Linked DNA regions of Homo sapiens. The protein of the gene in region 2 interacts with the protein of the main gene of each other region in a pairwise test. Each region holds a gene or a part of one and is shown on either strand. Other genes may lie near its edges.

Evidence for each region.
Region 1: the proteins of CEACAM8 (region 2) and ZNF16 interact in a two-hybrid assay, tested with the Homo sapiens proteins (one study listed by IntAct).

Annotation. Positions count from the first base shown.
Region 1 is NC_000008.11:144,944,478-144,961,120, forward strand, and holds the start of ZNF16 (zinc finger protein 16), read right to left. Parts: upstream 6,404-16,643; 5' UTR 6,320-6,403; intron 6,147-6,319; exon of another isoform or gene 5,925-6,146; intron 3,549-5,924; exon of another isoform or gene 3,463-3,548; intron 1,739-3,462; 5' UTR 1,730-1,738; coding exon 1,534-1,729; exon of another isoform or gene 1,436-1,533; intron 1-1,435. UniProt on the Homo sapiens protein: Acts as a transcriptional activator. Promotes cell proliferation by facilitating the cell cycle phase transition from the S to G2/M phase.
Region 2 is NC_000019.10:42,576,599-42,590,443, forward strand, and holds the end of CEACAM8 (cell adhesion molecule CEACAM8 precursor), read right to left. Parts: intron 13,138-13,845; coding exon 12,859-13,137; intron 12,441-12,858; coding exon 12,186-12,440; intron 11,807-12,185; coding exon of another isoform or gene 11,517-11,806; exon of another isoform or gene 11,318-11,516; intron 7,111-11,317; coding exon of another isoform or gene 7,081-7,110; exon of another isoform or gene 6,924-7,080; intron 6,740-6,923; coding exon 6,648-6,739; 3' UTR 6,608-6,647; intron 4,756-6,607; 3' UTR 3,645-4,755; downstream 1-3,644. UniProt on the Homo sapiens protein: Cell surface glycoprotein that plays a role in cell adhesion in a calcium-independent manner. Mediates heterophilic cell adhesion with other carcinoembryonic antigen-related cell adhesion molecules, such as CEACAM6.

The DNA.
Region 1 (16,643 bases), on a different chromosome or scaffold from region 2:
GGTGCTGGGTTACAGGTGTGAGCCACCATGCCCAGCCTAGTTCTCTATGGTTTCTTTCACCTCTCTGAGCATATTTGAGGCAGTTGATTTGAAGTTTTTGTCTACTTAAGTCCAATGTCTGTGCTTTCTCCAGGACACTTTTTGTCAGTTTACTTTTTTCCTTTGAATGGGACATATTTTTTTGCTTCGTTATATGCTTCATGATTTTTGCTTTGTTAAAAACTGCACAACTGAATATTAAAATGTGGTATCCCCCCTCCAGGCTTTGCTGTTTTTGATTGTTGAAGACTAGAGTCACATGTTCATTTAGTGACTTTTCCAAACTATTTTTGCAAAGACTATTCTTTGTCGAGTACAGTCACTGAAGTCTTTTTCTTTAGCTTGTGTTCAACCAGTGTTTTGACAGAGATTTTATCAAGAGAAAAACCAACACAAAACACTTCTCCCAGTCTTTGTGGATTGACTCTGTGTTGGGGTACTTTTTAAACGCTGTTTACAACTCTTTCTGAGTTGACTGCCTTCACTGAGCCTAGAGATTAGACAGAGTTCTTGAGAAAGCTTATGGTCTTAACAGGTCTTTTCTGAGCACACACCCAGTCCTGCGCATGCATGTGACTTCCTGGATTCCCCAAAATATATAGGTGCTTTTTTTTTTTTCAAATTTATGTATTTTTTTCTGAGACAGAGCCTCACTCCAGTTGCCCAGGCTAGAGTGCAGTGGCATGATCTTAGCTCACTGCAACCCTTGCCTACCAGGTTCAAGCAATTCTTGTGCTTCAGCCTTCCAAGTAGGTGGAATTACAGGTATGTGCCACCACACCTGGCTAATTTTTGTACTTTTAGTAGAGACAGGGTTTTACCATGTTAGCCATGCTTGTCTCGAACTCCTGGCCTCAAGCAATCCACCCACCTCGGCCTCCCAAAGTGCTGGGATTACAGGCGAGAGTGATCACACCCAGCCTTTCTTAATTTTTTAGTAGAGATAGGGTCTTGCCATGTTATACTGGCTGGTCCTGAACTCCTGGCCTCATACAATCCTCCTGCCTTGGCCTCTCAAAGTGCTCAGATTATAGGTATGAGCCACCACACCCGGGCCAAGGGTGCTTTTGAATGCCTCTATTTCCCCACAAGAAACTCCTCAGCTTTTCTTCCTAGGCTTTAGATGGCCAACTGTATGGGTAACCACAGTACAAAGCCCTGGACCAGAGTAGAGTCCTGAGGGGAGAGGGCTGCCACCAGCCTGGTTGTTGAATTGGGAAGGGGTCAGGAGTATAGGGCAAATCAAAGGACGCTGGTGGCCATCATGTCATACCTCTTCGTGTCAAGTGGGGAAATCACAGTTCTGCTCAAGGTGCCAGGGGCCAGGCTAGGTTAACTTCCTTGCTGACATCCAGCCTTGGCTCCTTGAGTCAGAGTACCCCGTCACCCTCCCTACCTGTGATGACACAGATGCCTCCTAGGGGTAAGCACAGGGTTCCATGGACATCACTTCCCCAGAATAAGGGCACCAGCGGAGAACTGTTCTTAAAGTACCTGGCTGCTGATAGTGAGGGCAGATGGCTTCCAGCTCAGTATCACTACAGCAGGGGGTACCACAGGCTGCAGATCCAGGGTGGGTCACAGCAGGAGCATCTCTCACACGGGCCTGGGCTGCAGGGGTCCAGGGGGATGGTCCTGGAACTGAGAGCTCCATCTCTGCCTCCTCACGGCGAGTTCTGAGGCTGGGCATGACAAGGACCTGAAAACCGGCAAGAACACAGGTGAGTCTACAGACAGGCTAGCTCTAGGGATTCATCCTCCCATCAGGCCGGGGTCTCTTCCTCCACCCCTGCAGCCCAAGACCTGAAGAGGGCCTGGTGCTGCCAGGTCTCAGGGGCTGATGCTGTGTTTCCTGATCTTGGACCTAAAAAGAGGGAGTCAGCCATGGAGACACAGACTCAAAAGCCAGGGCCACAGTACAAAGGGGCAAGATGCTGACCCTAAGGTAAAGTGGGTCATGGTGCCCAGACCTGCCATGATAGGAGGGCAGCCCCCACAGGGTCTGTGTCCTGCTGTGGGGCCTGTGTACTGCTGTGGGGCCTGTACCCTGCTGTGGGCCTGTGTCCTGCTGTGGGTCTGTATCCTGCTGTTGGGCTTGTGTCCTGCTGTTGGGCCTGTGTCCTGCTGTTGGGCCTGTGTCCTACTGTGGGCCTGTACCCTACTGTGGGCCATACCCTGCTGTGGGCCCGTGTCCTGCTGTGGGGCCCGTACCCTGCTGTGGGCCATACCCTTCTGTGGGCCTGTACCCTGCTGTGGGCCTGTGTCCTGCTGTGGGCCTGTGTCCTGCTGTGGGGCTGTGTCCTGCTGTGGGCCTGTATCCTGCTGTTGGGCCTGTGTCCTGCTGTTGGGCTTGTGTCCTGCTGTGGGGCCTGTGTCCTGCTGTGGGGCCTGTACCCTGCTGTGGGCCATACCCTTCTGTGGGCCTGTACCCTGCTGTGGGCCTGTGTCCTGCTGTGGGCCTGTGTCCTGCTGTGGGGCTGTGTCCTGCTGTGGGCCTGTATCCTGCTGTTGGGCCTGTGTCCTGCTGTTGGGCCTGTGTCCTGCTGTGGGCCTGTACCCTACTGTGGGCCATACCCTGCTGTGGGCCTGTGTCCTGCTGTGGGGCCTGTACCCTGCTGTGGGCCATACCCTTCTGTGGGCCTGTACCCTGCTGTGGGCCTGTGTCCTGCTGTGGGCCTGTGTCCTGCTGTTGGGCTTGTGTCCTGCTGTTGGGCTTGTGTCCTGCTGTGGGGCCTGTGTCCTGCTGTGGGGCCTGTACCCTGCTGTGGGGCCTGTACCCTGCTGCGGGCCTGTACCCTGCTGCGGGCCTGTATCCTGCTGTGGGCCTGTGTCCTGTTGTGGGGCCTGTATCCTGCTGTGGGCCTGTATCCTGCTGTGGGCCTGTATCCTGCTGTGACCACTCTTCTCACTCCTTGTTGCTGACATTCACAATGCTCTGAAGCTGGGCAGGCCAGACCCACCTAGAGTGGGAGAACAGCAGCTCCAAAGGGTGAACAGCCAGGGGCAGCCTGTGCTGCAGCCCCACATGTCATCATTATGTGTCAACGCCTACCAAATCCTAGTGGTCAGTTCTATCTGAGTTGCACCATCCTGGCAGCACCCACAGCAGGTGTTCCCATCTTTACTTGCACCAGCTACTCCCTCCTAGCCTCTCATTCCCCATTTCATGTTGGCACCCCAGTGTGCACTTCTGCACTGCCACCAACTTCCTTGGTGATTATGTCCAGTCTTGAGGCATCAACACCCTTGTTAAGATTCACAAACTTGGGCTCATCTCCAGTCCTAACTACTCCCTGTGAGCAGGAGAGAGGACACTCCCACGTGGCGGCATGACGGGCTCCTCACATGTTACTGATTCCCCCACCCCTCACTGTGTAAATGCACCATACCCTGCCCGGGTGCCCACTGGGAGCACTGACATACCTCAGCCCTTCACTCACATTGTACTGACATTGACTCTTCTGTCCTTCATGAGCACCAGCTGAGAATGAGGGTGTGGTCAAGGGGATCTGCAAAGGGGATGTGAAGAAAGGTGGCAGAAGGATGGTGCAGGGAGTCAACGTGATGGTACGTGTCACCCATAGGCCATGTGGGGAAGAAAGAAGGGCTGGGTGGTGCTCCTGGACTCAGATCACCATCAAGGAGAAGGCAAGGAGATATGAACAGAGCTCACAGGGATGGTTACTATGGACCAATGATAAGGGGCCTTGGCTGCCAGATGAAGGTGAAACACTGGCCACATTTCTGTGTCAGGAGAGACAAAACTAATATCTCAAGATTAACTTGGCAGGGTGCTCAGAGGAATGGTGGGAGATGAGATTCAAAGCAGGTACAGCACTAAGGTGCCTACCACGTGGCAGCAGAAATGGAGGAGACATGGGCGATGGGGGTGACAAGGCCCTCTGTGACTGCATCTGCCTGCCCTTACAGTGCAGATGCCCAGTTTCCTCGAGGGAAACCTCTCCCCATCCAAGTGGTGATGTAATAATCTGCAATATTTATTTAGTTCATTTTATTTAAAAATACTTTAAATTCTCATTGTTTCTGAATAGGGGCATAGTCACCTCAAAATTTAAAAGGTAAAAAGGATTTATGGTGAAAAATTCCCCAAACATCCACACAGTTTCCCTTGTTTCTAGTGTACCGTTCCAGATTAATCTAGGTTTACACAGCAAATATATAAACATATGTTTGCCTTTTAATGATAAATTACACCCAACTATGCTATGGCTTCACACCTTATTTTTCTCACTTCATTATGTGTGGGATCTTGCTTACCAGGACACAGAATAAATGCCCCCTCTCACCCAGGTCCATATCCTAATCCCTGGAACTTGTGCTTATGTTACACTACATACCAAAAAGGACTTTGCAAAGGGAATTAAGGTTATGGACGTGAATTACCCTGGTGGACCCAATCTAATCAAATGAGCCCTTAAAAGCCTGAGAAAGATCTGAGGGCCACATGGAAGGACCTCGGAGAGCTAAGGATCACTCAGGCTGGCAGCCAGCACTTCTGAGGACCAACCTCAAGAAAAACAGATTCGGCCAACAGCCTGAACAAGCTTGGAAGTGGAGTCTCCTGGCTAGAGGCTAAGCCTGCTCTTTAGGAGTCACACAACTGGAAGAGCCAGCCACCACCCTCCCATAGCAAGCAGCCACAGGATGGGCCCTGGCCGATCCCTCAGCACCTTCCCCCTTGGGGAAGAACTGGCCCAAACTCTCCTCCCTTCCCAGAGTACCTCCTCCACACGCAGAGCGACTCCACTACTGACTGGGCCTCCCAGGCAGGACATCTGAGGCTGAGCGAAACCCCCTTTCTCCCCCAGCTCTGCTCAGTGCATCTCTGACTTCTCATGGAACACCAGGAACCACGAACCCACCCTTGTCTCCCATGCGCTGGGAACCACCCCATCGCACTGCTGCCCCATGTAGGGAAAAGAAAGAAAGATCAGACTGTTACTGTGTCTGTGTAGAAAAGGAAGACATAAGAAATTCCATTTTGACCTGTACCTTGAACAATTGCTTTGCTGAGATGCTGTTAATTTGTAACTTTGCCCCAGCCACTTTGCCACAACTTTGAGCTCACAAAAACATGTGTTGTATGGAATCAAGGTTTAAGGGATCTAGGGCTGTGCAGGATGTGCCTTGTTAACAAAATGTTTACAAGCAGATGCTTGGTAAAAGTCATCGCCATTCTCCAGTCTCAATAAACCAGGGGCACAATGCTCTGCGATAAGCCACAGGGACTTCTGCCTTGGAAAGCCGGGTATTGTCCAAGATTTGTCCCCATGTGATAGTCTGAAATATGGCCTCATGGGATGAGAAAGACCTGACCGTCCCCCAGCCCAACGCCCGTAAAGGGTCTGTGTTGAGGTGGATTGGTAAAAGAGAAAAGCCTCTTGCAGTTGAGATAGAGGAAGGCCACTCTCTCCTGCCTGCCCCTGGGAACTGAATGTCTCGGTATAAAACCCGATTGTACATTTGTTCAATTCTGAGACAGGAGAAAAACTGCCCTATGGTGAGAGGTGAGACATGTTGGCAGCAATGCTGCCTTGTTATTCTTTACTCCACTGAGATGTTTGGGTGGAGAGAAACAAATCTGGCCTACGTGCCCATCCAGGCATAGTACCTCCCCTTAAACTTAATTATGGCACAGATTCTTTTGCTCACATGCTTTTTTTTGCTGACCTTCTCCCTATTATCACCCTGCTCTCCTACTGCATTCCTCTTGCTGAGATAATGAAAATAATAATCAATAAAAACTAAGAGAACTCAGAGACCGGTGCCGGTGCAGGTCCTTAGTGTGCCGAGTGCCGGTCTCCTGGGCCCACTGTTGTTTCTCTACACTTTGTCTTATTTCTTTTCTCAGTCTCTCGTCCCACCTGATGAGATATCCCACAGGTGTGGAAGGGCAGGCCACCCCTTCACCCCGTCGCTCCGCCCGAGCTCGAATGGTGGCACCGACAGGCGGGAACGCCACCAGCCTGTGGGCGGAGTCCTGGCTCGGCCCCTCGCGGCGACCTTACCCCGGGGTCTCCCCGGAGACCCCCTACCGGAGGCAGCCCCCAGAGGCTCTGACCTCCAGCCCAGGCCGAGCTGCCCCCGCCCCGCCCCCCCCGCGCTCCCACAACCCCCCGCGCGGCTCCGCCCCCGCCCGGGGTCCCCAGCTCGCTGCCCGCCCCGTCTGAGCCCTGAGAGGCCCCTGGGCCCCCCAACCACGGGGGCATCAGGGACAACCAGACGCAGGGTCCCAGGCGTGGAGCTTCGCGGAACTAACCTCAACGGGTCGCGCTTGGAAAGGAGGCAGCACCGTGGCACGAAGACGTCTCAGCCAACGCCGGCTGACCCCCGGAAGTCCCGCCCCGAATTCCGGCCCGCCGCTCGTTCTATCTGGGGCAGCGTAGCCTCTCTAGATGGCGGGAGGCCGGGGCGACTCTGTGGTTCAGCCCCAGACCTGGTCCCACTAGCCCTGAGGCCAGAGACCCTTCTGTTCCCCTTTTTTTCAGAGTTGACCCGTGCACTGAACAAGGCGGCAACTGAAGAAAAGGGGACACTAATAGAAATGCAGAGATAATGAGATATACTCGTGTAGTGGGAGATTTTAATATACAGGCCCCCAGAATCGGAACAGACGGTAGTTTGATAAAAACCTAAGGATACGTTTTTTGGAAGAACTGAATCATTCAATCAGTAAGTGATTAGATAGATAAATGGAAGAATTCAGATTCCTTCAGTAGATAACATGTTTTCGTGAGATTGTGCATGGATCGTTTCTAATACGGAAATGAATTGTACACTTGGACATAAAGAATACAAATAAGGCTGGGTGCGGTGGCCCACGCCTGTAATTCCAGCACTTGGGAGGCCGAGGCGGGCGGATGGCTTGAGGCTAGGAGTTTGAGACCAGCCTGGGCAATATAGGGAGACTCCATCTCTACAAAAAATACAAAAGTTAGCCAGGTGTGATGGTGTGCGCCTGTAGTCCCAGCTACTCAGGAGGCTGAGGTGGGCGGATTGCTTGAGCCGGGGAATGTGCGGCTGCAGTGAGCCGGGATCACATGTTGCACTGATGAGAGAGTGAGACCCTGTCTCAAAAAAAAGAAACAAACAACAACAACCAAAAAAAACCTCACAAATATTTTGACGTTCATTTTGCAGGCAGATTAAACTATCAAAATCAGGAATACATAATAAAAAATGCATGACAAACTCTATTGGAATTTAAGAAACACTGTCTAGATAACCCCCCCCCCTTTTTTTTTTAGTTCAGGCTGAGGTGCTCTCAGTTGGAGATGAGGAACTTATTGGAAGCTGGAGTAAAGGTCACTCTTGCTATGCTTTAGCAAAGAGATTGGTGACATTTTGGCCCTACCCTAGAGATCTGTGGAACTTTGAGCTTGAGAGAGATGATTTAGGGCATCTGGCAGAAGAAATTTCTAAGCAGCAAAGCATTCAAGATGTGACATACCTTTTTCTGAAAGTGTACAGTCATATGCATTCACAAAGAGATGGCCTGAAATTGGAACTTATGTTTATTTTTTTATTTATTTTTAATTTTTTTATTTCCATAGGTTTTTAAATTTTTATTTCCATAGGTGGTGGTGTTTGGTTACATGAGTAAGTTCTTTAGTGGTGATTTGTGAGATTTTGGTGCACCCGTCACCTGGGCGGTATGCCTTGAACCCAATTTGTAGTCTTTTATCCTTCACGCCCTTCCTGCACTTTCCCCCTGAGTCCCAGTCCCCAAAGTCCATTGTATCCTTCTTATGCATTTGCATCCTCATAGCTTAGCTACCTCTCACGAGTGAGGACATACGATGTTTGGTTTTCCATTCCTGAGTTACTTCACTGAGAATAATAGTCTCCAATCCCATCCAGGTTGCTGTGAATGCCATTAATTCACTCCTTTTTATGGCTGAGTAGTATTCCATCATATATATATGTATGATGGAATACTACTCTCTATATATGTATAGATATATACATATATACACACATATATACACACACACATATATATATAAATATATATATGCTACAGTTTGTTTATCCACTCGTTGATTGATGGGCATTTGGGCTGCTTCCACATTTTTGCAGTTGTGAATTGTGCTGCCATAAACGTGCATATACAAGTATCTTTTTCGTATAATGACTTCTTTTCCTCTGGGTAGATACCCAGTAGTGGGATTGCTGGACGAAATGGTATTTCTTGGTAGTTCTACTTTTAGTTCTTTAAGGATTCTCCACACTGTTTTCCATAGTGGTTGTACTAGTTTACATTCCCACAAGCAGTGTGGAAGTATTCCCTTTTCACCACATCCACGCCAACATCTATTATTTTTTGATTTTTGATTATGGCCATTCTTGTGGGAGTAAGGTGGTATTGTTTTGTGGTTTTGATTTGCATTTCCCTGATCATTAGTGATGTTGAGCATTTTTTCATGTTTGTTGGCCATTTGTATATCTTGTTTTGAGAATTGTCTGTTCATGTCCTTAGTGCACCCCCCACTTTTTTTTTTTTTTTTTTTTGAGATGGAGTTTCACTCTTGTTGCCCAGGTTGGAGTGCAATGGTGTGATCTTGGCTCACTGCAACCTCTGCCTCCTGAGTTCAAGCAATTCTCCTGCCTCAGCCTCCTGAGTAGTTGGGATTACAGGCATGCGCCACCATGCCGGGCTAATTTTGTATTTTTAGTAGAGATGGGGTTTCTCCATGTTGATCAGGCTGGTCTCAAACTCCCAACTTCAGGTGATCCACCAGCCTCGGCCTCCCAAAGTGCTGGGATTACAGGAGTGAGCCACCACGCCCGGCTGTTAGCCCCCTTTTTGATGGGATTATTTTTTCGTGCTAATTTGTTTGAGTTCCTTGTAGATTCTGCATATTAGTCCTTTGTTGGATGTATAGATTGTGAAGATTTTCTCTCACTCTGTGGGTTGTCTGTTTACTTTGCTGACTCTTCCTTTTGCTGTGCAAAAGGTCTTTAGTTAAGTCCCACCTATTTATCTTTGTTTTTGTTGCATTTGCTTTTGGGTTCTTGGTCATGAAATCTTCGCCTAGGCCAATGTCTAGAAGGGTTTTTCTGATGTTATCTTGTAGAATTTTTATATTTTCAGGTCATAGATTTAAGTCCTTGATCCATCTTGAGTTGATTTTTATAACGTGAAAGATGAGGATCCAGGATTATTCTCCTACATGTGGCTTGCCAACTATCCCAGGGCTATTTGTTGAATAGGGTGTTCTTTCCCCACTTTATGTTTTTGTATGCTTTGTTGAAGGTTAGTCGGCTGTAAGTATTTGAGTTTATTTCTGGGTTCTCTATTCTGTTCCATTGGTCTATGTGCCTATTTTTATAGCAGTACCATGCTGTTCTGGTGACTATGGCCTTATAGTGTAGTTTGTTTCATGTGCATCCATGTGAAGAGACCACCAAACAGGTTTTGTGTGAGCATTATTTCACCTGGGTGCAGGTGGGCTGAGTCTGAAATGAGAGTCAGTGAAGGGAGATAGGGGTGGGGCCATTTTATAAGATTTGGGTAGGTAAAAGAAAATTACAGTCAAAGGGGGTTGTTCTCTGGTGGGCAGGAGTGGGGGTCACAAGGTACTCAGTGGGGGAGCTTTTGAGCCAGGATGAGCCAGGAGAAGGAATTTCACAAGACAATGTCATCAGTTAAGGCAGGAACAGGCCATTTTCACTTCTTTTGTGGTGGAATCTCATCAGTTAAGGCAGGAACCAGCCATCTGGATGTGTACGTGCAGGTCACAGGGGATATGATAGCTTAGCTTGGGCTCAGAGGCCTGACATTCTGGTCTTCTTATATTAATAAGAAAAATAAAGTGAAATAGTGGTAAAGTGTTGGGATGGTGAAAATTTTTGGGGGTGGTATAGAGAGATAATGGGTGATGTTTTTCAGGGCTGCTTTGAGCGGGATTAGGGGCAGCGTGGGAACCTAGAATGGGAGAGATTAAGCTGAAGGAAGATTTTGTGGTAAGGGATGATATTGTGGGGTTATTAGAAGAAACATTTATCATGTAGAATTATTGGTGATGGCCTGGATATGGTTTTATATGAATTGAAAAAGTAAATGGAATAAGAGAAGGAGAAAAACAGGTATAAAAGGTCTAAGAATTGGGAGGACCCAGGACATCTAATTAGAGAGTGCCTAAGGAGATTCAGCATAGTCCTGCTAGCAAAGATTATTTATTTACTTCAAGAGTTTAGAGTGGCAGTTTGGGGATAGCGCCAGGAGATATCAGCTGTGATGGCTTGCAGAAACAGTGTAAACCAGCTGTGTAAACAAGAGGAGGGCATGTATGAGTAGTTGAGAATGGTGAATAGGAGTATGACTAGATAGAAGATAGTAGGGATGACAAGTTTTTTTTGGGGCACAGTCTAAGTTGGTCTGCTGTCTGGAATGAGACCGGGGCCTAATAAAAAGGAGCATCTCTACAGGAGCTCAAATGGGCTGTACCTTGTAGCATTCTGAGGACAGGTCTGACTTCTGAGAAGGGAAAGTGGTAAAAGTGTTGTCCAGTCCTTTTTAAGTTGGTGGCTGAGCTTGGTGAGGTGTGTTTTTAAAAGACCTTTAGTCAGTTCTACTTTTCTTGAAGATGGAGGACCATAAGGGATATAAAGGTTTCACTGAATACTAAGAGCCTGAAAAACTGCTTGGCTGATTTGAGTAATAAAGGCTTGTCTGTTATCAGACTGTATAGAGGTGGGAAGGCTAAACTGAGGAATTATGTCTGACAGAAGGGAAGAAATGACTGCGGTGGCCTGCTCAGACTGTGTAGGAAAGGCCTCTACCTATCCAGTGAAACTGTCTACCTAGACTAAGAGGTATTTTAGTTATCTGACTCAGGGCATGTTGAGTAAAGCTAATTTGCCAGTCCTGGATGGGGGCAAATCCTCAAGCTTGATGTGTAGGGAAGGGAGGGGGCCTGAATAATCCCTGAGGAGTAGTAGAATAGCAGATGGAACACTGAGAAGTTATTTCCTTGAGGATAGATTTCCACGATGGAAAGGAAATGAGAGGTTCTAAGAGGTGGGCTAGTGGCTTGTACTATAGCATAGCCTGCCTTTGCTGGTGTGTGGTGATTAGGCCTGGTGGAACTGCCATCAATAAATCAAGTGTGATCAGGGTGAGGAACAGGAAAGAAGGAAATATGGGGAAATGGGGTGAATGTCAAGTGGATCAGAGAGATACAGTTGTGGGGGTCAGGTGTGGTATCAGGAATAATGTGGGAGGCCGGATTGAAGTCCGGGCCAGAAACAATGGTAATTGTGGGACTTAACAAAGAGTGAGTACAGCTGAAGGAGCCAGGGAGCAGAAAGTATATGCATCAGGTATGAGGAAGAAAATAGATTTTGGAAGTTATGAGAAATGTAGAGAGTGAGTTGAGCATAGTTTGTGATTTTAAGGGCCTCTAAAAGTATTCGGGTGGCAGCAGCCACTGCACAGAGACATAATGGCCAGCTTAAAACAGTAAGGTCAAGTTGTTTGGACAAAAAGGCTACAGGACGCGATCCTGGTCCTTGTGTAAGAATTCTGACTGCACAGCCCTGCACTTCGGCTGTGTGTAATGAAAAGGGTTGGGATGAGTCAGGGAGAGCTAGAGTGGGGGCAGTCTCTAAAGCTGTCTTCAAGGAATGGAAAGAGGAGTGGGGAAAGGATTTAGGATCTATGGGGTCAGCTAGGTTTCCTTTTGTGAGTTTATAGAATGGTCTTGTTAGGATGGCAAAACCAGGTATCCAAAGGTGAAAGTATCTAAACATGCCCAGGAAGGAAAAGAGTTGTTGTTTTGTAGAAGGGGTAGGGGTTTGAGAGATTAGTGGGACATGATCGGCAGGGAGAGCACGTGTGTTTTTATGAAGAATTATGCCAAGGTAGGTAACGGATGGAGAAGAAATTTGAGCTTTGGAGGGGGATACCTGATATCCATTGGAGAATAAATGCTGAAGGAGCAGAAGTGTGTCTTGTTGAGAAGATTCACAGGAGGGGCTACAAAGAAGAAGGTCATCAATATATTGAATAAGGTGAGAAGTGGAGGGGTGGAAAGAAAGTAAATCGTGAGAAAGAGCTTGGCTGAAGTAATGAGGGCTGTCCCTGAAACCTTGCAGCAGCACAGCCCAGGTAAGCTGCTGGGACCGATGATGGGTGTCAGGGTCAGTCCAGGTGAAAGCAAAGAGAGGCTTGGATGAGGGGTGCAGGGGAATAGTGAAAAAAACATCTTTAAGATCAAGAATGGAATAGTGAGTTGTGGAGGAAGGTATTGAGGACAAAAGAGTGTATGGGTTGGGCACTGCAGGTGGATAGACAAAACAATTTGGTTGATAAGGCATAGATCCTGAACTAACTTATAAGGCTTGTCTGGTTTTAGGACAGGCAAAATGGAATTGTAAGAGGAGTTTATAGGCTTTAAAAGGCCATGCTGTAGCAGGCGAGTGATAACAGGCTTTAATCCTTTCAAAGCATGGTGTGGGATAGGATATTGGCATTGAGTGGGGTAAGGGTGATTAGGTTTTAATGAGATGGTAAGAGGTGCATGATTGGTCACCAAGGAGGGAGTAGAGATATCTTATACTTGTGGGTTAAGGTGGGGGGATACAAGAGGAGGACACAAAGGAGGCTTTGGATTGGGAAGAAGGGCGGCAATGAGATGTAGCTGTAGTCCAGGAACAGTCAGGGAAGCAGATAATTTAGTTAAAGTGTCTCGGCCTAATAAGGGAACTGGGCAGGTGGAGATAACTAAAAAGGATTGCTTAAAAGAGTATTGTCTAAGTTGGCACCAGAGTTGGGGAGTTTTAAGAGATTTAGAAGCCTGGCCGTCAATACCCACAGCAGTTATGGAGGCAAGGGAAACAGGCCCTTGAAAAGAAGGTAATGTGGACTGGGTAGCCTCTGTATTGATTAAGAAGGGGACGGACTTACCCTCCACTGTGAGAGTTACCTAGAGTGTCTGTGATGGTCCTGTAGGCTTCCCAGGCAATCAGGCAGTGTCAGTCTTCAGGAGCTAAGCCAAGGAGATCTGGGAAGGAGTCAGTCAGAGAGCCTTGGGCCAGAGTTCCAGGGGCTCTGGGAGTGGCTGCCAGGTGAGTTGAACAGTCTGATTTCCAGTGGGGTCCCGCACAGATGGGACATGGCTTAGGAGGAATCCTGGGCTGTGGGCATTCATTGGCCCAGTGGCCAGATTTCTGGCACCTGTAGCAAGCTCCTGGGGGAGGAGGTCCTGGAGGAACTCCTGGCAGCTGTGGTTCAGGCGTTTGGAGTTCTTGTGTGCTGGAGATGTGGCTGGGATTTGTCTCACATTGGAGGCAAGTAATTGCAACTCAGAAATACATTGCTACTTGGCTGCCTCTACTCTATTATTGTACACCTTGAAGGTGAGGTTAATTAAGTCCTGTTGTGGGGTTTGAGGGCTGGAATTTAATTTTTGGAGTTTTATTTAATGTCAGGAGAGGATTGGGTAATAAAATGTGTATTGAGAATAAGACAGCCTTTTGACTTTTTAGGGTCTAGGGCTGTAAAGCGTCTCAGGTTTGCTGCCGAACGAGCCATGAACTGGGCTGGGTTTTTCATATTTGATGAAAGAGCCTAAACGCTCACTGATTTGGGAGAGGTCTGATAAAGAAAAAGGAGCATTAACCTTGACTATGCCTTTAGCTTCAGCCACCTTTTTAAGAGGAAATTGCTGGGCAGGTGGGGAGGGCTACTCACAGAATGAAACTGTAAACCGGACTGGGTGTGAGGAGGGTAGGTGATAAAAAGATTATAGGGTGGAGGAGTGGAGGCTGAGGAATAATTGGGACCTAGCTCGGCCTGGCGAGGAGCAGCCTGGGGAGGAGGGGAGAGGTCAGATGGGTCTGTAGAAAAGGCAGATTAGAAAGACTCAGTGACGCTTGGGGTTGGGACTGAGGGGACAGGTGGGAGGGAAAGAAGGAAGATTTGGGATGAGTTGCACTGGGCACAAAGACTAGGGAGGAACTGATGTGTAAAAGAATGCCTGGACATCAGGCACCTCAGACCGTTTGCCCATTTTACAACAAGAATTATTTAGATCTTGCAGGATGGAAACAATTGAAAGGTGCCATTTTCTGGCTATTTGGAACCACTGTCGAGTTTGTACTGGGGTCAAGCGGCATTGCAGAAGAAAATAAGACATTTAGGTTTAGGTCAGGCAAGAGTTGAAGAGGTTTTATGTTCTTAAGAACATAGGCTAAGGGAGAAGATGGAGGAATGGAGGGTGGAAGGTTGCCTATAGTGAAGGAGGCAAGTTTAAAGAAAAGGGAGAGTAGAGACACGGAGGGAAGTGGTTTGGGGGTTCTTACCCTCCAGAAAAGCAGGAAAGGGGTTGGGGTCCAGAGATACGAGGTTGGGGCATGGAAATAAGGGATCAGGGTGCAGAGATATAAGAGGTTGGGGCATGGAAATAAGGGATCAGGGCACAGAGATGTGAGGTTGGGGTACTTGCCCCTCCCCCAGAAAAGCAGGACTTGCCACTAAGGGTGAAGGAGAAGGAGTTGGGGGTTTATTGCCCCCCAGAAAGGCAGAGAAGGGGTAGAGACATGGAGAGAAGGGGTTGGGGTACTTGCCCCTCCCCTAGAAAAGCAGGACTTGCCACTAAGGGTGAAGGACCAAGGCAGGCGTCCCTGCGTGGCCTGACACCTCTGAAATGTGGGTGAATAATCAGAGAGGAATTCCTGCAATGATTAAACACCAAGGGAAGGCTGCCTTCCCAGTCCATGACTGGTGCCAGAGTTTTGGGTCCACAGATAAAACATGTCTCCTTTGTCTCTACCAGAAGATGAAAGGAATTGAAATTAAGAGAAGGGAGAGATTGAAGTGTGGCGCCAAGATTGAAAGGAGAAAGAGGTTGAGAGATAGTGAGGGAGGTGGGAGAAGAGAGTAAAAAGAGGCTACTTACCAGATTTGAAATTGGTGAGATGTTTCTGGGGCTGGTCGGTCTGAGGACCTGAGGTCGTAGGTGGATCTTTCTCATGGAGCAAAGAACAGGAGGACAGGGGATTGATCTCCCAAGGGAGGTCCCCCGATCTGAGTCACGGCATCAAATTTCATGCACGTCCAAGTGAAGAGACCACCAAACAGGCTTTGTGTGAGCAACATGGCTGTTTATTTCACCTGGGTGCAGGTGGGCTGAGTCCGAAAAGAGTCAGTGAAGGGAGATAGGGGTGGGGCCGTTTTATAATATTTGGGTAGTTAAAGGAAAATTACAGTCAAAGGGGGTTGTTCTCTGGTGGGCAGGAGTGGGGGGTCACAAGGTACTCAGTGGGGGAGCTTTTGAGCCAGGATGAGCCAGGAGAAGGAATTTCACAAGACAATGTCATCAGTTAAGGCAGGAACAGGCCATTTTCACTTCTTTTGTGGTGGAATGTCATCAGTTAAGGCAGGAACCGGCCATCTGGATGTGTACGTGCAGGTCACAGGGGATATGATGGCTTAGCTTGGGCTCAGAGGCCTGACAGTTTGAAATCAGGTACCGTGATCCCTCCAGGTTTGTTCTTTTTGCTTAGTCTTGTTTTGGCTATGCAGGCTCATTTTTGGTTCCATATGAATTTTAGGATTTTTTTTCTAGTTCTGTGAAGAATGATGGTGGTATTTTGATGGGAATTGCATTGAATTTATAGATCACTTTTGGCAGTATGGTCATTTTCTCAATATTGATTCTACCCATCCATGAGCATGGGATGTGTTTCCATTTGTTTGTGTCATCTATGATTTCTTTTAGCAGTGTTTTGTAGTTTTCCTTGTAGAGGTCTTTCACCTCCTTGGTTAGGAATATTCTGAAGTATTTCATTTTTTGCAGCTATTGTAAAAGGGGTTGAGCTCTTGATTTGATTCTCAGCTTGGTTGCTGTTGGTGTATAGCAGAGCTACTGATTTGTGTACATTAACTTTGTATCCTGAAATTTGCTAATTCACTTATCATTTATAGGAGCTTTTTGGAGGTGTCTTTAGGGTTTTCTAGGTATATGATCCTATCATCAACAAACAGTGACAGCTTGACTTCCTCTTTACTGGTTTGGATGCCCTTTGTTTTTTCTCTTTTCTAATTATTCTGGCTAGGACTTCCAGCACTATGTTGAATAGAAGTGGTGAGAGTGGGCATCTTTGTCTTGTTCCAGTTCTCAGAAGGAATGCTTTCAACTTTTACTCATTCAGTATTATGTTGGCTGTGGGTTTATCATAGATAGCTTTTATTACATTGAGGTATGTCCCTTGTATGCCAATTTTGCTGAAGGTTTTAATCATAAAGGGATGCTGGATTTTGTAGGGTGCAGCCCTATGGGGCTTAGTGGGTGTTCTCCCCATATGTGGAGATGGGAGATTGTAATAAATAAAGACACAAGACAAAGAGATAAAGAGAAAGCAGTTCAGCCCAGGACCACTACCCTCAAGATGTGGAGACTGGTAGTGGCCCCGAATGGCTGGGCACACTGATATTTATTGCATACAATACAAGGGGCGCAGGATAAGGAGGGTGAATATTCTAAGTGATTGACAAGGTGAAGCAAGTCACATGATCATAGGACACGGGGCTCTTCCCTTTTACGTAGCCAAAGCAGAGAGAGAAGGCAGCATACGTC
Region 2 (13,845 bases):
GCAATCAAAATCTAGCTCCTAAAACTAAAGCCTGTTAAGTTTTATTCTGATAATATTTATCTTCCCAGGCACAGAACAAAGGCAAAATGAGATCAATTATTCTTCCACCTATCCCATCTCTTTCTACCTGTCTTCCCCCCTGTAAGGAAATATATAAATACTAAGCCTTCTGCAACCTCTTCAGAGAGAACACACCCACAGAGGTTTTCTGTGATTCATGTTTTCCCAGGGTGCACCCTCAAGCTCTGGCTCAATAAACCTTAACTGGTCAAGACCCTTGCCTCAGTCAATCATTCTGGATGACCACCATGAGTCTTGCACAGGCCTTCACTGATCCCTTTGCTGCCCAGGTGATGTGTACCTAGGTGAATCAGGTCCCCACGAGTCAAACACTCTTCTCCCTTTCTGCCTCCTCTACCTCCCTCTCCTCATTCAGTGCCGTGTGCCCTGGTCTGGCCCCAGCTCCAGGCCATTAGTATTAGCCTAAGAAGGCAAGGCCAGGATGAACAGGCTGAGAAGGAAATCAGAGGCCAACAGGCATGAAAAGAGGCAGATGGGACTGTCATTTCTCAGAGCCACCCACTCTGGGTGTGTTTTATGACTGCTACTGGATTTGGAATCTTTTCCTCTTTGTGGCCATAATGGGAACTCACCCTTCTCCTACTTCCTTCCCATTACACTTTCTATTCATAGGGAACTCCTTTTATGACCAGAGAAAGGCTGTAAAAATAGTTGACAATTGAGTAAAACTGACTTTATAATGACTGGGAACCTGGCTCTGTTTTTTTCCAAAAGAGACTGAGATTCCTCAAAGCTAGCTTTTATGCAGGGCTGTGCAGTTGTGAGTGTAGCATTAGGGAACAGGTACATAAGTGAAGGGTGAGACAGAAAACAAAATGCTGGCTCTTTGTCAAATCCTGAAAGTAGAGGGGGCAAAAATCATTCTGGAAGGTGTATGTCATTCAGGAGACCTTGGAAATCTCAGGGTATCCTCTTCCCAGATGAAGTGGAGGATGAGGTTAAATTATGGAGTTGGGTGTGTGATACTGGGTACATTACTTCTCTGCCTCGTTTTTTTTTTGTTGTTTTTTTGTTTTTTTTGATGGAGTCTCACTCTGTTGCCCAGGCTGGAGTGCAGTGGCACGATCTTGGCTCACTGCAAGCTCTGCCTCCAGGGTTCACGCCATTCTCCTGCCTCAGCCTCCCGAATAGCTGGGACTATAGGTGCCTGCCACCACGCCCGGCTATTTTTTTTGTATTTTTAGTAGAGATGGGGTTTTACGATGTTGGCCAGGATAGTCTTGAACTTCTGACCTTGTGATCCACCTGCCTCAGCCTCCCAGAGTTCTGGGATTACAGTTGTGAGCCACCGTGCCCAGCCTGCCTCATTTTTTTAATCTGTAAAAATGGGGATAACATCCAGGAATTTTTGTGAAGATGTTAACTACATGGAAAGATCTTAGGATAGTTCCTGGCACATACTGAGTTTTAAGTCAGTGCAAACTATTATGATTATGGGAATAGGAAAAGGTGCCACCCTGGACGTGTAGGATGAGGGGGTATTTTCTAGCCAGGGTCCTAGCAGGCCAACCGGAGATGAAGATGGTTAAGCAGAAGCAGCTTAACTTCAGGAGTGGAAGGATTGGGGAGCAGTAGCTCATGCACAAGATTCTGTGAAAATGCCTTTACCTAACAGCAGAAATACCCAGAATGGGTGTGGCTTCTGTCACAATTATTGTCTAAAAATGTGTCGTAGACTCAAATGGCGTTGATGTAAGCCAAGTACAGAAAAGGGCTTCAGGGCTGCCTTGCACATAGCATTCATCTTGTCAAAGGAAAACATTCATCTTGTTAAAGGAAAACATTCATTTTGCTAAAGGAATCCCCACTTGTAGCCCTGGTTATTATTTTTGTCTCAGTACTATTCTTGTTTATAGTTTGTAAAGAGAAAGACTGAAGAAGTGTGAAATACGGAAGTGCATGTATGAATTAACAGGGCAGAATTGGGACTGGTATGCGTAAGTTAAGAGAAAGTGCATATAAATTTATGTGAACATAAAGAGGACTTCTTGTTTTAAGCAGACCTCTTTGTATAAAAAATGTGGGCTGTCTTGAGTGGATGGCAGACTCTATCACAAGAACATTCTAGCAGAGTCACGAGAGAATGGGGAGCATGACTTCTTTCTAAATGGCAAGTTAAGAGTATGTAAGTCGATGAAGAGAGAGGAGATGAAGGAGAAGATGGGTGAGGATGAGAGAAATGGGATAGAGAAAAGAACAGACTGAAAGGAATGTTTACCAAGTGCTCATCAGGTACCAGCCTCTGTGTCTAATACCTTACACATCTTAATTTACTCTTTGACTGTCATTTTCTGATAACAGTAAGAGTCATCTTTGTGCTGCAGATGAGAAAACGCTGTAGGAGGTGAAGTGAGTGGTCCAGGATCATCCAGCCAGTTCATAGCAGAGCTGGTGTGTTTCACCTCAAAGTTTGTGCTCTTGCCTGTGATTCACACAAAACAATGAGATATAGAAAGAAGGCAAATGAAATTTTTGTTGTGGGTGATGTTTATGGAAGTTACCAGTGTTAGGCAGAATAATGGCCTCCCCAAAATGTCCACATCCTTATCCATGGAACCTGTGCATGTTACTTTATTTGGCAAAAAGACTTCACTCTTGAGATGGGGAGGTTATTCTGGATAATCTAGGGTGGCCCAGTGTAATCAGAAGGGTCCTTGTAAGTGAAAGAGTGAGGCAGGAAGGTCAGGGTGAAAATGCTGCAGTCTGAGACTCCACTAACCATTGCTGGCTGTGAACATGCATCAGAAGACAAAATTTCAACTAATGTAGTTATAGATCTGATTGGCTTTTAATTGTGATTCAGGGTTTGGGGCAGCTCTCACTCTACACATACAGTGATAGCTCCCCCTGGGCAACATAATAACAGAGCAATGGGTTTTGTCAAATTGGAACCAGTAGACAGAGCCATAGAAATAAATGGATTGGTTAACATCAGGGTACTTCAGGTTACTCTTTTTGGGGTAAATGTTAAAGCAGAGGGGACTTCCTTATGATGTTGACTCAGGGAGACTGGAATCTTCTGTTTTCAGAAAACATTGGTCTGTTTTGAGATCTGCTTCCTTAAAATTCCAGTTGGAGTATGCAGCATTTAGTGTGAGTGGCTCTAATTTGGAGTCTTTAGACTCTCACTTAAGTGAGAGTGTGACCAAAGCTTAAAGCATTAGCATTACTCTCAGTTATCATCATTTTTGGCTTCCATTGTTTATAGGTTATGATATCCTCCTGATCACACATTTCTTTGAGTTTATGTAGTTCCAGCCAAATAGAGACCATTTGATATTTGATGGATGGCAGCACGCAAACACTTAAAACTTTTAGAGATTACAGCACACCAGGGAGACCAGTAGTATGACTATGAGGAAGATAATGTTAAGAGTTTGGAGTATGCACCTTTGGTAAGATGCAAACCAACTGAAATAGAATAGATAAAAGAATGAACCAGATGAGTGTAGCCATTTTAACCAAGTAGCATGTTTGTTAATTTTTGCAACTGAGACTCTATAATACCCGATATATTTATCCATGTGCAACAAGAAGCATCATAAACTACACAGACTCCTCTCTGATCAGCCAATAGGGAGCAATTTTATTATCTAGCATTGCATGCCTGGGTTAAATTAAAACAGACAGTGAGAACAAGTGAGTCTAGGAGTCTGACTCTAAAAGAGACCATAGTACATTTGAACAAAGAGTTGTGTTAAAGATGCTGTTACTGTCAGCCATTGGGTGGACTAAAGGATCTCATACGTAAAAATTTGGGGTTGACACGATAGATTAGACACTCCGTTAATCTATCATTCTCTGTATTTTCTCAAATATAACATCCCAATCAAAGCCTTGGTAATATAACCAATGTTTTAAACTATATCCCATTATAAAGACAGCAGATTCTCACTGAACTTGTGCAAATAACTGAATTACCATAAACATATGAATACTCATGAATAGTTGCCCAGTTCTGTGGCAGTCAGGTAGGGAGCAAAAGTAAATGTTATAATTTTTGTTCACAAAAGTCTGCTTTACCAAATTGCAGTAAGGTATAGATAGCTTAAAAGATAAAGAAATTCATAAATCTGAAAAAGAAAACACTTAAAGAATTGGCAATTTTTCAAATAAAAAATCTTAAAAACGGGCTGGGCGCGGTGGCTCACACCTGTAATCCCAGAACTTTGGGAGGCTGAGGCAGGCGGACCATGAAGTCAGGAGATTGAGACCACAGTGAAACCCCGTCTCTACTAAAAATACAAAAAATTAGCCGGGCGTTGTGGCAGGCGCCTGTAGTCCCAGCTACTCAGGAGGCTGAGGCAGGAGAATGGTGTGAACCCAGGAGGCGGAGCTTGCAGTGAGTTGAGATCGTGCCACTGCACTCCAGCCTGGGCGACAGAGCGAGATTCCATCTCAAAAAAAAAAAAAAAAAAATCTTAAAAACATTATCCTCATTATTATTTAGTTCAATGAAATTCATGTTTTTTTCCTTCTGTGTTTTGGTGGGCAACTTCACAAAGGTATCAGCCTGTTTGCAAGTTCATAGACAGTCCAGTGGCGTGATCTTAAAGTTATCAGGAACTTGTGTTCAAGAGTACTCGTCAGAGTATTTTCCATAAATCTTGAAGAAGAAGCAATTTTGAATGGTAGCTGATTGCAAATGCTTTGAGGAAGAATAAAAACAACTGTCTGTGAATGACAAAGATTGAAAATGACTATGGTTAAAACTCTGAGGAGAGCTCATTATGATAAAGACACAGCCACATAGAAATTTAGTTACTTCTGTGGCATATGACATTATGACTGATAACATATTCGATTTCTAGGAAACTCATAATTTTTGGAACACTCATATCGGTAACATAACCGTAAATATAACTTAGAGAAGGTTTAGCACCACTTATCAATTGACAATGCTTTCCATGTAATTTAACATATCAAGTAAGGCTGGGCGTGGTGGCTTATGCCTGTAATCCCAGCACTTTGGGAGGCCGAGGCGGGTGGATCACAAGGTCATGAGATCGAGACCAGCCTGACCAACATGGTGAAACCCCGTCTCTACTAAAAATAGAAAAATTAGCTGGGCGTGGTGGCAGGTGCCTGTAATCCCAGCTACTCGGGAGGCTGAGGCAGGAGAATTGCTTGAACCTGGGAAGCAGAGGTTGCAGTGAGCCGAGATTGTGCCACTGCACTCCAGCCTGGCGACGGAGCGAGACTCCGTCTCAAAAAAAAAAAAAAAAAAAAAAAAAAAAAAAAATATATATATATATATATATATATATAAAATAAGGTGGCTTTTCCACTTAGCTTCTGTTTCTCAACTGGATTACTGAGTTCTTGGTGGAGCCCATTAATGAACAGGGCCAGCAAAATATAGGCTTGTATATGTTGAAAAAGTTTTCTAGGAAATTCTAATACTCCCAGCTAAAGAACCATTGTTTTAGCCTCATGTGCTACCTATTAGAACAGGAGTTCTCCATCCTGGTTACATGTTAGTAGCATCTGGGAAGGCTTAAAAATTACCAATGCCTGGGTCCCACTCCAGATAGTAGGTAAGAATTTATGGATGGGGCTTGAGCATCATTTAAAAAAACATTTCTCAGTGATTCCAATGTGTGGCTATATTTCCCATCAGATTTCTCTGATTTCTTGTGGCATTCACTTTTTTCTATTTTGGTATTATGATTATTTTTCATATCTTATCTCCTGTCTTAGGCTGTATGTTCTCTGGGGTAGGGATCTTGCCTTTTTCATTTCTGTATCTTTCATGAACACATGAATTGGTCATCAGGAAAAGGTTCTCAACCACACGTAGGCTGTGTCCTGAATCTCAGGTTCACACATTAATGCTAGAGTCGTTGTTCTCCATGAGGTCAGAGGTTGCTTGCTTTGAAGGGTATGTGGGCAACTCCACAGTTCAGATAGTGGATGGGAGATTACCCTGTTTCTAGGCATAGCATTGGAACTAAGAATTCTATGTGTATATGGGGTAGATGCGCAGGGAAGTGTAGGAAGACAGTTCTAATTAGGATGGAGGAATTATACTAGGGAGTAGAGGGAATGGAAGTGAGAAGAATTAGTAAAGAGAAGAAATGTGAACTTATCAAATAGGCCAGAGTAGGCCTCTGAAGATTCTTGAGTAAGTGAGTGAACTAGATTTTAGGAAGGTAATGAGACAATCATATGCAAGGAAGATTTCAAATACTAGAGACAAGAAGTCAAGCAGGACTTCGAGCAGTTGTTGAGGTCTATGGGAATGGATAAAATGACACAAGTGAGAGATGTTAAGAAAGGATCAAAAGACTTTCATAGTGTATTGAATCTGGGAAACAAATGAGCAGAGGCTGGGAATAATCACATCTAAGAGACAGTGGGGTACAGGGAGCATGCAGACCAGGGAAGAAGAGACCTGCAGGAATTAGTGCTGAGAAGCAGGAGTTTATTGGGAGGAGGAGGAGATCCATTCCCGGGATACAGGTCTCTCTCCCAAGCATGGCGGTCAGCCCTGCAGGAAACAGGACAAGAGGAAAGGCCATCATACCTGCCAGTCTTCTTGAAATGCAGAAACTACACCAGAGCTACTATATCAGAGCCACCCTGGCCAGTACTCCAATCATGATGCTGACAGTGGCTCTAGCTGAGAGGCCAGGAGAACTTCCTTGTACTAAAGCATCTGTCATGGAAAGAAAAGAAGAGAAGGAATGAAGTTGATGCCATTTTACAGTGGGGTACCCCAGGAACCAGCTCCTAGCATGAAGTAGTCTCTACTTGTTTTTTCAAGGAATACATTATTTTTGTGGGAAGGTTGCTGGGACGTGATTAGCCAACTATATTCTTGCAGGATTTTTTCCTCTCACCATGTTTCTAGGTTGACGATCAGTCTTCGGTCAATTTCATCCTGGCATTTCTTTACTCAGATATTTTGAAGGCTTTGTGATGTGAAAAAGCTGATTGCTATTTTATGTGTCATTAGAACTTTCCACCTTTTCATGGTTGCATCTTTTTCTCAGTGTCTTAGTTGTGGCAGGTCTCTATGGCAGGGAGCTGATTGACAGAAGGCCCAGGTCAGTGCATTCCAAATTGACCACCTCCTTTGCACAGAGACCTCTCTTCCCAGGGGCTCCCAGCAGGGGTATGGAAGCAAGCCCAGTTTTGTGAGACTCTGTTTAACTCTGATGGGTGACTAGTTGGAGGACGCCCCATCAGCCTTGCCTAAACTCACTTAGAACTGCACTGCTATCTAAAACTTCTTTTTCTTTCTCCTTCACAGGAATCAAATCTGCATCGTGGTCTGAGGGCTCTCCCAGGCTCCTCTCACACCTGCCCCATTTTCCCTCACAGGTGTTTTTCCTAGTAAATTATCTTGCGTGTCTAATCTCATCTTGGTTGCATCTCAGTGGGTTAAAAACTAACATACCAGGTTTGATTCTTTGCACTTAGCTTTTTTTCTCTCTTTCACGTGTAACCAGTAACCATGTCCTCGTGTTTCCTGTGTTGCCTTTTTTTTATATGTGTGTGTATTTACCTAAGATACCTTTTACACACACACACACACACACACACAACCTTTTGCATCTGTTTCTTTATTTCTATTGGAACCATTTACTTTTGGCCCTCACCAGTCAACTCAGGCTGATGATTAATGCTATGTTAGCTACTGTTGAGGGGCAGCTCCTATGGGCCAGGCCCTGTGCTAAATACTTTACCTCATTTGATTTATACAATAACTCTCTTGGGTAGAACATTATTTCCATTTTACAGATGAAACGACAGAGGCTTAGAGTGGTGAAAAAACTTTCCTGATGTCATATGGCTGGTGAGAAGTAGACTTGAGATTTGATTCTAGGACTACTCAGCTTCAAGCTAATGATAACAGTAGTAATATATCAGCTAAAATTTATGAAACATTTCCTCTGTGTGGGGCATTTTGCTGAAGGTTTCATTGATGATTACATAAAACTCTTAAAACAATGCTATGAAGCAAACACTGTTACTGCAATTTTCAGTTGAGGAATCAGAGGCTCAGAGAAGTTAAGAATCTTGTGCAAGAAATTTATAACTGTTAAGTCTTACATTAAAAAAGAAGAAACATCTCAAATCAACAACCTAATTTGCAACTTCATGGTACAGGAGAAAAACAAACTAAACCCAAATATATTGAATGAAGGAAGTAATAAGGATTAGAGTGGATATAAATGAAATGGAGAATGGACAAACAATAGAGGAAATCAATGAAACCAAAAGTTGGTTCTTCAAAATAAGATCAACAAAATTGCCAACCATTAACTAGACTGACTAAGAAAAAAAGAGACAAGATGGAAATTACTAAAATCAGAAATGAAAATGGACTCCCAGCATGGTGGCTTACACCTTCAATCCCAGCACTTTGGGAAGGCAAATTGGGAGGATTGCTTGAGGCCTGGAGTTTGAAACCAGCTGGGGCAACATAGGGAGACCCTGTCTCTACAAAATTAAAACAAAAATTCAGCTGGGCATGATGGTATGCACCTGTAGTTTCAGCTACCTGGGAAGCTGAGTTGGGAGGATTGCTTGAGCCCAGGAGGTTGAGGCTGCAGTGAGTTTTGATCGCACCTCTGCACTCCAGCCTGGGCTGACCTAAGGAGTGAGACTCGTCTTTCTCTCTCTCTCAAAAAAAAAAAAAAAACAAACAAAAAAAAAACGAAAGAAAGAAAAGAAAATGGAGATATTATATATCAATTCTAGAGAAATATTGTTTACAAAAGTACTATGAATAATTGTATGCCAATAAATTGGATAGCCTAGATGAAATGGACAAATTCCAAGAAACACACACAAAAAATCTGAATAGACCTATAATTAGTAGGAAGATTGAATAAAAATTTCATTTGACAAAATTCAACATTCTTTCTTAATAAAAACATGCTAAGTATGAATGGAAGGAAACTATCTCAATATAATAAAGGCAGTATGTGAAAAGCCCAAGGCTAACATCATACTCAATAGAGAAAGACTGAAAGCTTTCCCCCTATGATCAGGAACAAGACAAGGATGCCTGCTTTTGCCACGTCTATTTAACATAGTATTACAAGTCCTAGCCAGAGAAATTAGGCAAGAAAAAAAGAAGACTTTCAGATTGGAAAGAAGAAGTAAAATTATCTGTCTGTTCACAGACAACTTGAACTTCTTTGTAGAAAACTCTAAGGATGAAAAAAACCTGTTAGAATTTATTAATAAATTCAGTAATGTTGCAGGATACAAAATCAGCATGCAAACATCAGTTGCATTTCTATACACTAACAATGAACAATCTAAAAAGGAAATTAAGAAAAAAATTTTAATTCACATTAACATCAAAAAGAATAAAATACTTAGGCATAAGTTTAACCAAGGAGGTGAAAGGATTGTATTCTGAAAACTAGAAAACATTGCTGAAGGAAATTAAATACGACCTCAAAAAATGGGAAGACATTTTGTTTTCATGGATTGGAAGACACGGTATTGTTAGGAGGATAATACCACCCAAAGTGAGCTATGGATTCAACACAATTTCTATCAGAATTCCAATGACATTTTTTTGCAGAAATAGAAAAATCTATCCTAAAGTTCATATGGAATTTCAGGACTCAAAATAGCCAACCAATCATGAAAAAAGGAACCTTGAAAAAAAAATGCTGAATCCTGATTTCAGCATTTACTACAAAGCCACAGTAATCAATACAATGCAGTACTTGCGTAAAGGAAGACAGAAACCAGCGGAATAGAACAGAAAGCCCAGAAAGGAATGCTTGCATATATGGCCAAATGATATTTGATAAGGATGCCAATACCACTCAATGGGGAAAGTGCAGTCTTTTCAGCAAATGATTTTGGGAAAGCTGGAAATCCATGCAGAAAGATGAGCTGAACCTTTACCTGACACCATATACAAAAAACTAACCCACAGTAGATCAAAGACCAAATGTAAGAGTAAAAACTATAAAACTCTCAGAAGAAAACACAGGGAAAAAAACTCCATGACATTGGATTTCACAGTGGTTTCTTGGTTATAACAACAAAAGCATAGGCAACAAAAGAAAAAATGGGTAAGTTGGACTTCATGAAAATCAATAACTTTTATATATCAAAGAACATTGTCGAGGAAGTGAAAAGGCAACCTTGAAGTGGGAAAAATATTTGTAAATCATGTATGATAAGGGATCAATTTTCAGAGTATATGAAGAACTACTACAAATCCACAACAGCAAAAATCCAAAAACCCAACTAAAAAAGGACAAAAGACTGAAATAGAGATTTCTCCAAGGAAGATATACAAATGGCCAATGAGCACATGCAAAGATGCTCAACATCACTGATACTTAGAGATATGCAAATCAGAACCCCAATGATAGAATACCTCAAACACATTAGGATGGCTTTGATTAAAAAAAAACCACACACACACAAACAACAAGTGTTTTTAAGGAAGTGGAAAAATTGGAGCTCTAGTGCATTGCTGATGGAAGTGTGAAATGTTATAGCCACTGTGGAAAACAGTATGGCTGTTTCTCAAACAATTAAACAAAGAATTACCATTGGATCCAGCAATTCCACTTCTGGACATATATGCAAGAGAATTGGAAGGGATTTGAACAGATATTTGTACACTGATGTTCACAGCAGCATTAGTCACACAATAGCCAAAAGGTGGAAACAACTGCAAAGTCCATTGAAAGATAAGTGGATAGAAAAGTGAGGTGTATCCATACAATGGAATGTTCTTCAATCTTAACAAGGAAGAAAATTCTGATACATGGTGCAAAATGGATGAACCTTAAAAACATTATGTTAAGTGAAACAAGCCAGACACAAAAGGCCACCTATTATATAATTCCATTTATATAAGGTTGTTAGAATAATCAATTACATAGAGACAGAAAGTAGAATGGAGGTTGCCAGGGGTTAGAGGGAGAAGGAGTGAGAGTTACTCTTTATTGGGCAGAGAAGTTTATTTAATATGGTAAGATGAAAAAGTTCTGGAAATGGATGGTGGTGATGGTTACATAACACTAAATTGCACGCATAGAAATAGTTAATGGTGGCTGGGAGTGGTGGCTCATGCCTGTAATCCCAGCACTTTGAGAAGCCAAGGCGGGTGGATCACCTGAGTTCGGGAGTTCGAGACCAGCCTGATCAACATGGAGAAACCCCATCTCTACTAAAAATACAAAATTAGCTGGGCGTGTTGGCACATGCCTGTAATCCAGCTACTTGGGAGGCTGAGGCAGGAGAATTGCTTGAACCCAGGAGGCGGAGGGTGAGCCGAGATAGTGCCATTGCACTCCAGCCTGGGCAACTGGCACTACCCCTTCCCTCTCATGCAGAGACCCTGTGGCTGAATCTCCCTGTGTCTCCAAGTGTGCATCACTCACTGTCCTCTGTGTTGTATCCACAGCCTCATGCAGCCCGTGACTTCAGAGCTAGGACACTGCTCAGGAGTCTTCCCGGAGGCTCCCTGTCTTCCCATTTTTGTGCAGCCTGACTGGGGGGAGGCTTGGCTTCAACTGGCAACTTGATTTAGCCAGATTTGGGATAGGCCACCTGAGCACCTTTTCCATACACCTGGGTCCCACCCCAGGTGGAGTCAGGGCAGGGCCTGTCACCAGGGAGCTGGGAGCAGAGATGGGAGCAGTCTGAGCTGCTCCTCCGTCATCCAAGGGGCTCCTCCTCCCATTTGGGGAACGTTGTGGGCTTGTTTCAAAGCCTTGGATGTTTCTTGCAGCTAATGGCATAGGTAAAAGAAAACAAAGGGGTAACAGAAACAGGGGTGCCATGTGTTGGTGACAAAGAAAAGCAACTTGACCTTGAGGACCCTCCTTCTTCCCCCTTGGTGAAGTCCTTTCCATGACATAGGGCTCTGGGGCTGACGAAGGCCCCTCTCCACGTTTCTCAGGTCAGCCCCGAGGTCAGCCAAGAGAAATCAGAAAAACAGGCAGAAGAGAGTCTATAGAGATAAACTGGGAGGGTTTAGGAGAAAAGTTGGGGATTTGCTTGTGCTGTTGGACACAGGCTGGGAATAAAACTTTTTTTCTGGCTCATCTCTGAAAGCCAGATAGACTCTACCAGAAAACATACTGCCAGTGCTCCAGGGATCCACTTACCAGAGACTGTGATCATCCTGACTGTGGTCCTGTTGCGGCCAGTGGCTGAGTTAGTGGTGTGGCAGGCATAGGATCCGCTGTTCTTTGTAGTGATGTTGGGGATAAAGAGCTTTTGTGTGTATTGCTGGAATGTGCCATTGACAGACCAAGAATACTGTGAGGGTGGATTAGAGGCCGCATGGCAGGAGAGGTTGAGATTTACCCCTGCATGGTAATAGGTGTCTGAAGGGGAAATGGTGGGGGCATCTGGGCCATCTAGAGCAAAAGAATAAAGTCACAGGTGATGTCATCAGAGGGAAGGGGAAGCTCCTGGTCTGTGGAAGAGCCACAGTGTCCCTCTGAGCCAAGTCACAAACCTGAGCCAAGTCCCAACCAACCCCAACCAAACCCCCGCTGTTTCTACTGAGACAGAGTCCGAGACATTTACCTGTTTCTCCCATCAGAAGATGTGGACTCCAAGTCTCCCATGACAGGAGCACCCCCTCCCCTCTTATTCTTGGTCAAGGCTAGGCCTACCCATGTTTGCCTGGGGCAGAAAGTCATGACGAGCTGGGTTTCTAGGGGTGGGTGGGGAATCTGCATTTTTGGAGCTGAGAGGGACTGAGAGGCCTGGCCTCTGGCTGCGTGGATTTGGGCTGGTGGCCTGGGCCACAGAGGAACAGAAGATACTCACAGAGGACATTCAGGGTGACTGGGTCACTGAAGTTTGCACTCGCTGGGTTCTGTATTTCACATTCATAGGGTCCTACGTCATTCCTTGTGACACTGAGTAGAGTGAGGGTCCTGTTGCCATTGGACAGCTGCAGCCTGGGACTGACCGGGAGACTCTGACCATTTACCCACCACAGGTAGGTTGTGTTCTGAGTCTCAGGTTCACAGGTGAAGGCCACAGCATCCTTGTCCTCCACGGGGTTGGAGTTGTTGCTGGAGATGGAGGGCTTGGGAGTCTCCGCTGTGCAGAAAACAGAGAGAAGATTGCCCTGTGTGGCACCTTTGATTCCTCCACAGGCAAATTTCAATTAGAGTTGGCATCTCCCACCTCTCAGCCTACTCGAGTCCTTAAAAGCCCACGGTGGGTGTGTGTGTCACAAGACAGATGCACAATGATCGGGGCTCAGAGACCATGAGGCCGCCTTCTCTGTGTGGGAGAAACACAGACTTTCTCAAATGTGAATTGGGCAGCAGCGCTGGGTTGTGGACAGACCCAGGACTGGGAGTTACAGATCCTGGTGCCTCTTCTGGTCCCTCCCTGACCGGCTGCCTGCCTGGCCTACCTAGGGGTCCTCACCTGGAACATGTAGGTGCTGGGTCCCTTCCAGCTTCACAGTCCTACTTTGCCCTTCGAGGTGTGTTTTTGAGGGTTCTGTTTCCAAGAACATTCTAGAGATGGGAGATGATGGGACATGCCACTATCCTTAATTCCTGACTGGGTGTTTCAACAGAAATAACACAGGGGAGGCCGGGGCAAGCCTGGAGGTCGGTTCCGTCGTCAGGCAGTGGAGCCACAAGGTGGGGCAGTTTTTCCCAGGTGTTTCATCGTGACTTACTTGAGTCAGTGACCTCTAAAGATAGAGCAGAGTCCAAGGAATGATCTAGAAGGAGTGAAGGGGACAGGCAAGAACAGGTGGCTTTGGAGCAGAACCTTGTTTCCTTTCCTTGG